Regions from separate parts of the Homo sapiens genome. Here region 1 is reported to be linked to region 2. Evidence: microRNA targets listed by miRTarBase, many of them from high-throughput screens and not tested one by one. Region 2 holds a microRNA gene; the other region holds the end of a gene's coding sequence.

What was found. Region 2 holds the annotated microRNA hsa-miR-3151-3p (CCUGAUCCCACAGCCCACCU, at 1,034-1,053, opposite strand). A microRNA usually pairs through its seed, bases 2 to 8, with sites in the 3' UTR of a target mRNA and lowers its output. Matches are read on the target gene's strand: a 7mer-m8 pairs with bases 2 to 8, a 7mer-A1 pairs with bases 2 to 7 and ends in A, and an 8mer does both.
Region 1: the mRNA of MIS18A is a reported target of hsa-miR-3151-3p. Seed matches in the 3' UTR shown: 8mer at 659-666.

The regions. Positions count from the first base shown.
Region 1 is chr21:32,266,557-32,269,556 of GRCh38, reverse strand. It overlaps MIS18A (MIS18 kinetochore protein A), which reads left to right. Exons shown (of 5, transcript NM_018944.3): 5 at 440-1,329. The coding sequence ends at 520. Among named protein-coding and RNA genes, the nearest start is that of MIS18A, 11 kb to the left of the region's middle.
Region 2 is chr8:103,152,178-103,155,714 of GRCh38, reverse strand. It overlaps MIR3151 (microRNA 3151), which reads right to left and starts at 1,101; the gene lies at 1,026-1,101. All of the region lies in intron 1 of BAALC (BAALC binder of MAP3K1 and KLF4), which reads right to left.

The sequences.
Region 1 (3,000 bases), not on the chromosome of region 2:
TTGGGGAACTCAAAAGCTAAAGCTTAATCAACAAAATAATGAGGAAGACATGTCATGTCAAAATCAAAACTATATATTAAAACACTGCAAAGCTAGAAATACATCTTTGATTCAAATCAGTATTTTGTTTGATTCAATTCTTGTGGTATAAATAGCCTTGTTGTTGGATGTTAACATTTTCTCATTGCCAGATAGGTGAGATGGTGATGATTGTATAAAAGAGATGTAGATTATAGGTTGAGAACTACTGTTGATAGAATTATGCTTTATTTTTAAAAAATTTATGCCTCTAAATAGTTTTGTTAAACACTGAATATCTACCTTGTAATGTATGACATATCCAAAATTGCATTAAGTGTATATCTTAATTATATTTAACCATGTATAATTTTTAATTATATGTGTGTTTCTTTATTTTTTTATTTTTTAAATTCAATAGATGGAAGATGTCTTGAAAGCATTACAAATGAAGCTGTGGGAGGCCGAATCCAAATTGTCCTTTGCCACTTGTAAAAGCTGAACTCTAGTCTGTGTCCTCCATTCTGCCCCCGCCCTTCCTCCCCTTATTTGTTAAATGAAGCAACATAGTGAGACGTCGTCTCTACAAAAAAAAAAAGAAAAAAAAAATTAGCCAGGCATGCGAAACGCTGAGGTGGGAGGATCAGATGAGCTTGGGAGGTTGAGGCTGCAGTGAGCCTTGGTCATGCCACTACTGTGTTCTAGTCTGGGCAACAGAGTGAGACCTTCTCTCAAAAAAAAAACCCAAAATTGTAGAATTACTTCTATAGCTATATTTTATGATAAAGAAGTGATTGTTTCTCAAAATCGCATTTTAAAGACGTTTTATGGTACTTGTTGGAATTGGGACTTAGGAGTTTTGATTTTGATAAGAAACTGGGATAATTTTCTGAACTTTTTTTCCTCTGTATCACATTTATTTACTATTTTTAAAAACTTTGACATTTAACACTTGGGACAACATTTATTATAAATGATAAGAAAAATCTTAGAGGTTTGTCTACCCACAGTGTCATGGAATCTTCTCTGAAAACTAATCCATAAAGTTCCCTGGAGAAATTGGTCAGAATGATCTGTCAGAACCATTTGAAAACTTGCTCAAGAGCAGTTGCTTATATATAGTAGGATTTTACTTTTTCCTGCTTATGTACTACTATATGCTTAAAAAACCTGGAGGAATACTTACCAAAGAGGAGTAACCATCTCTGAGGGTGGGATTCTGGGGGAATTTTTGTTTTTTTCTGTTTTCTATAATGTGAAACTTTTGTAGTATGTATTTTTCTAATTGAAGAGAATAAAGATTAAAACAAAGTGCTTTAAGATTGATTTTTACAAACTGAATTGTATTTAACTGAGATCAGAAATCCTGGTGCTGTGAAATCCACACATTACTGAGCATGGCAGTGTGGAAGGCCTGCTCAGGAATATAAAGGTAACCCCAAATTTCCCCAGACCCCTTTGTTTCTGGGTGTGAGTGAGGTCACGGAACAGTACTCAGTGGTATGAGTAACTCAGCGTTTGCTCCGAAGTTCCCTGATTACTTGTGAGAATACTAAAGTTCTCAGAGCAAAAGGTCCTAAGTCACATTGACTGGATCATGCAGGATTCTTCTGTTCTTTCTGAGAGATTGTCGACAGCCTCAGTTAACGTTGAGTGAGTCCTTTAGGCGTTCTCTCTCGCAGGCTACTCTCCCACTAACAGACTATGGTGCTGTGGAAGCAAACGTCAACACCCGCTGGCAACAAGGCAGCATCCAGCTGCAGTAAGCTCGATGTAGTCCCAGGTGTCTGTCCTCTTAGGTGCTTTGGTGGCACCTTGTGTGAAAATGCATTCTAAACAGATGAGAGAGTATTTTAGCCACAAGACTCAGCTGACTCTCTGGTTGTGCAGGTTACAGAGTACTCCAGCAAGCATTTTCAGATTCCATTCCAAAGCCATAGGCAATTTGGCTCCCCGATTCCTTATACCCTGTTCATACTAGGGAAGGAAGGGGCTGTACAATATTTGTAGCCAGTTCACTCATCTTGAAAACTCATTTCACCAATGAAAAGTAATTTCTAATATCTTGGTACTAATTAAGATTCTGTTACAGATCAGAAGATAAATGTAGCTCATGCCTTAGTGGCTGCCTCTAGAGTGGGCCTTTGATTACCTTTCCATCTCTGCACGTGTATTCCTGTTAGGGTTCTTCACATGAAGTTAACGAGGCTCCCTTGGGCTGCAGACAGAAGCCAGCACACATTTGTATTACATGGTCTCCACTGAAGCATCTGAACGTCAATCCAGGAAATACTGTGTTTCATAAGACAGTCTTCATCTTTGGCCTCAACCTGTGGCATCCCTGAAGGGGTGGCCTTGCCATCACAGTGAGAGGGACTTCCAAGGCTGGGGTCCAGGTGGGAGTGCTGCATCCTGTCTGTGCTGCATGGTGACACTGGCAGGAGAGGGGACTTCCCCTGTTGTGGGCCACCCTGTCCTGGGCCGCTTGTTTCTCTGAAGCCTGGTGGCATGGCTTTTCTGGCTTTCTGTGAGGTCTCATCAGAACGTGTGTGTGTGTGTGTGTGTGTGTGTTTAACTTGTCCCATATATCCACCTGCTAAAACCTACTACTTGAGGCAACAAGTTTTTGTTTCTTATAATTGGAAAACCCAGTGTGTGGTCGTTTCTGGTAAATGAGCCCTGGGGAAGCACTGCCTGTGAGCAGGAGTAAGGGTCCAGAAGCAGTGTGTCCGGAATTGGTGGGTTCTTGGTCTCACTGACTTCAAGAATGAAGCCGCGGACTCTCGCAGTGAGTGTTACAGCTCTTAAGGTGGCGCGTCTGGAGTCTGTCCCTTCTGATGTTCAGATGTGTTCGGAGTTTCTTCCTTCTGGTGGGTTCGTGGTCTTGGTGGCTCAGGAGTGAAGCTGCAGACCTTCGCGGTGAGTGTTACAGCTCTTAAGGCAGCGCGTCTGGAGTTGTTCGTTCCTCCCGGTGGGCTAGTG
Region 2 (3,537 bases):
TGATATGCAGCCACTAGGGAAGCAGAAAGATGAGTAAGGTGATTACTGCCAGGTCTTCCTATGGGACGGCAGCACCAGATTCTCCAGCTGCTAGGAGAGTTAGCCGCTAAAGGATCACAGCTGAGTGCCTCTCCAGGCACTGCTCCTGTGGAAGGAAATGACCTTACCCAAGGTCACACCTACTTGCTAGGGGAAGACTGCATCCAGCGCCTGGCCGATACAGGGTAAAAAGGCCCAGTCTTCTCAATTGCTGAATGGCCATCCCAGCTCCAGAGCTCCCCAGGGCATCAGCTGAAGCCCCTATTACAACAGCCATTCCACTCCTCCCTCTGCCCTGGACTGTGCCCCTCACCCTATTAGAGAAACTGGGATGCTGACTGAATTATTATTACATTAGAGAATTAAGAAGTTTTCATTAATTTTTAGGTGTGATGATGGTATCATGGTTATATATTAGTTTGAAGTATATGAAATTGCTAATATTACACTATTTCAACCTACAAAAATAACAAAATGGTCCAATCTAATATCTTTTTGGTCCAATCTAATAGATATGGTCCAATCTAATATCTTTTTTAAAGAGTCCCAGTTTATTAGAGATTCATACTGAAGTATTCATGGATGAAGTTACATGACTTGTGGAATTTGCTTCAAAAATGTTTAATTGGCGAAGTGGAATGGAGGCAGAGATGAAACAAGCTTTGCAATATGTTGATAATTGTTGAAGCTGATGATGGGTACATGGAGGTTTATTATACTATTCTCCATATATATTATATATATATATATATATAGCTTGAGATAGGTAAGAGGCCCACATCACAGGTGGTGTTACTAGAGCTCTCTCCAGTAAGGGTTTACCTCAGAGTCTGTTTCTTGGCTCTGTCTTTAAGAGTATACAGTATAATAGCAGAGATAAGTCACAATCATAAATAAGAAAACTCAAAAGGGAGTAAGTGTCCTAAATGGTGTGTGCTATCAGGGAACACATAACTGAAGCAGAAGGGCAGGAGCAGCAGGCTTTTGGGGTGACAGGTGGGCTGTGGGATCAGGTGGGATGCCCTTTGAGGCACCTGATCCCATTGCCCCACCCATCACCCCAAAGGTTGTATGGAGAGGCTGGAGAGAAAGCCTTGAATTCCATACTAAGACATTTGTATTCAGTAGATAGTGGGAAATCATGAAAGGCTTTGAGTGGAAGAATAACACAATAATGATCCCAGCTGTACTTGGGAGTATTTACCTGGCAATAATGTGAAGGGGATTGGAGTGGGAGTGACTGGGGGTGTGAAGACTAGTCCAAAAGTTGTTGCAAATGTCTAGGTGAAAGGCGGTGAGGACAGAAGCTAGCAATCCATGAAGGGGCTGGTGTACAGGAAAGACCACAGGGCTCAGAATGAGACAGACCTGAGTTCCAAACCCCACCCCACTGCTCACAGCCCGTGTACATTTAGACAAGCCATCCCACCGCTCTGACTACCCCCTTCTGTAAAATGGAAATAACAGAGTTAGCTAATAAATCTGCAAAGCCCGGCACATGCTGAGCACCCAATTAATGGAAGCCACACCATGAGGTCGTAGCTGTGTTCGTTTGTGCTTGTACATCATCACTTATCACCCCAGCAAGAAAGTGTGAGCCTGACTGCTATGAAGACTGCCCTTGAAAAGTGATTCTTGGAGGTAATCGTTTAATGAGGCCTCGGTTTCAAACATGCCAGTTGTTTATTGAGGTGCTTAAGCCTGAATCATTCCTCTTAGGAAGGGTGCACAGGCGGTCTCTGCTTCCATTGTAACCGCTGCCATGCCCTGTTGTCATGGTGACCAGTTTCCCAAACTGCCCTGCTATTTTCTGCAAGCCTTTCCAGTTTCTTAACGCCCTAAAGTCCACAAGCCCTAGAGACAGCAGCAGGTTGGGTTTTTTGAACTTCCACAGAAAACACTGTCAACTCTTTAAATTTGCCAGTTGGCTGCGAGCTGCTTCTCCAACAGAAGCTCCCAGCCTGAGCAGCAGTGTGACCCTGCACAGCAGACACCCACAAATGTTCCCACTAACTGGAAATTGGTGCCATGGAATATTAGCTGGCACATCAGTCTCTGGCTGGCATTAATCTTGCAGGAAAATAAGGCAGAAGACAAGGGAATGTCCACCATGCATTTCACGTACACAGCACAGTCTGAAGTTAAAAGACCATTCTAAAAGATTAAAGTTTAAGGTATTGCATTATTTTTAAAAATTATTTCAATATTAGCATATGTGGTTTTTCCAGAGAATGTTCACCTTATGAACTTACTTGAAACATGAAAATATTAAAAACAATATTATTATTGTTGTTACGGCAAAATTGTAACACTAGCAATCATGTCACCTTGGTTTCTGGCAGAACTTCTCTCCCTCCTCACTTACCTAATTCCTTTCCCCCTTCTTGTTCCTGGAAATCTTCTCTCCTCTCTGACCACAGCTATAGGATGAAAGAAGTGACCACTCTGCTGGCAGCCTGCCCAGTATCTGTTCTCCCCATTTTTCCTTTGCCAAGAGGACCCTGATACTTTTAGGGTAGCTTGAAAGTTCCCTGTGTGGAAGGAAATGACCTCACACAACATCACATCCCCTTGCTGGGGAAGCCCACATCCAATGCCTGGTCAATATAGGGTAAAAAGCTAAAAGTTTTGAGTTCCTAGACACCCTTGTAGCCCAGAACACCTACATCATACACTTCTGACCAATAAGACCCAAGCAAAGTTTACTGGGTTTGAGGAAAACTGTCATTTTACAGATAAGGAACAGATCAGGCAGAATGCCCCTTTCTGCCCGTCTCCTTCTTCCCATTTGAAATAAGATGGTGCAGCATCTCGCAGCCATGAGGATGAAATCCACACACTAAGGATGGCAGAGCAATAAAGCCAAAGGAGCCCAGCTCCTCCACAGTGTCCGTGACTGGGTGTGGCCGCCGACCTCCAGACCTCTGTGCAGACCTTCCATGGGCTAAATCCCATTCCTGGAGTTGGTTTCTGTTCAGGCAGCCAGATGCAATCCCTAACTGGTACAAAAGGTGTGGAGGGTTCCCTTCATTCAACAAACATCCACCGAGTGCCTACTCTGTGCTGGGCACTGTTCTAAGCACTTGGACTGTAACAGTGGGTGAGTCCATCAGATCCTTGACCTCTTGAAGCGAGAGAGTCAAGAAATAAACAGTAAACGAACAAGACAATGACAGGCAGTGGTGTTAGGAAGGAAATGACCAGATGGCCACTGGGGAAGGCTGGTCTCTCTGAGGAGGTGACATCTGAACTGAGAGCCAAAGGGTGAAGAGGAGTTAACCACACAGAGGGGGCGGGTGTGGGGAGGAAGCACATTGCAGCAAGTGTGAAGGCCTGTGACAGGAAGGGGCTCCATGTATTCAGAGAACAGAGGGGAATCAAGCGTGGCCGGAACACGCTGAGCAAAAAACAGAGCAGAGTAAACAATGAAATCATGCTGGAAAATCAGCAGGGACCTCGTCATGCAGGCCCCTGGAGGCCAAGGAAGGGACTGGGATT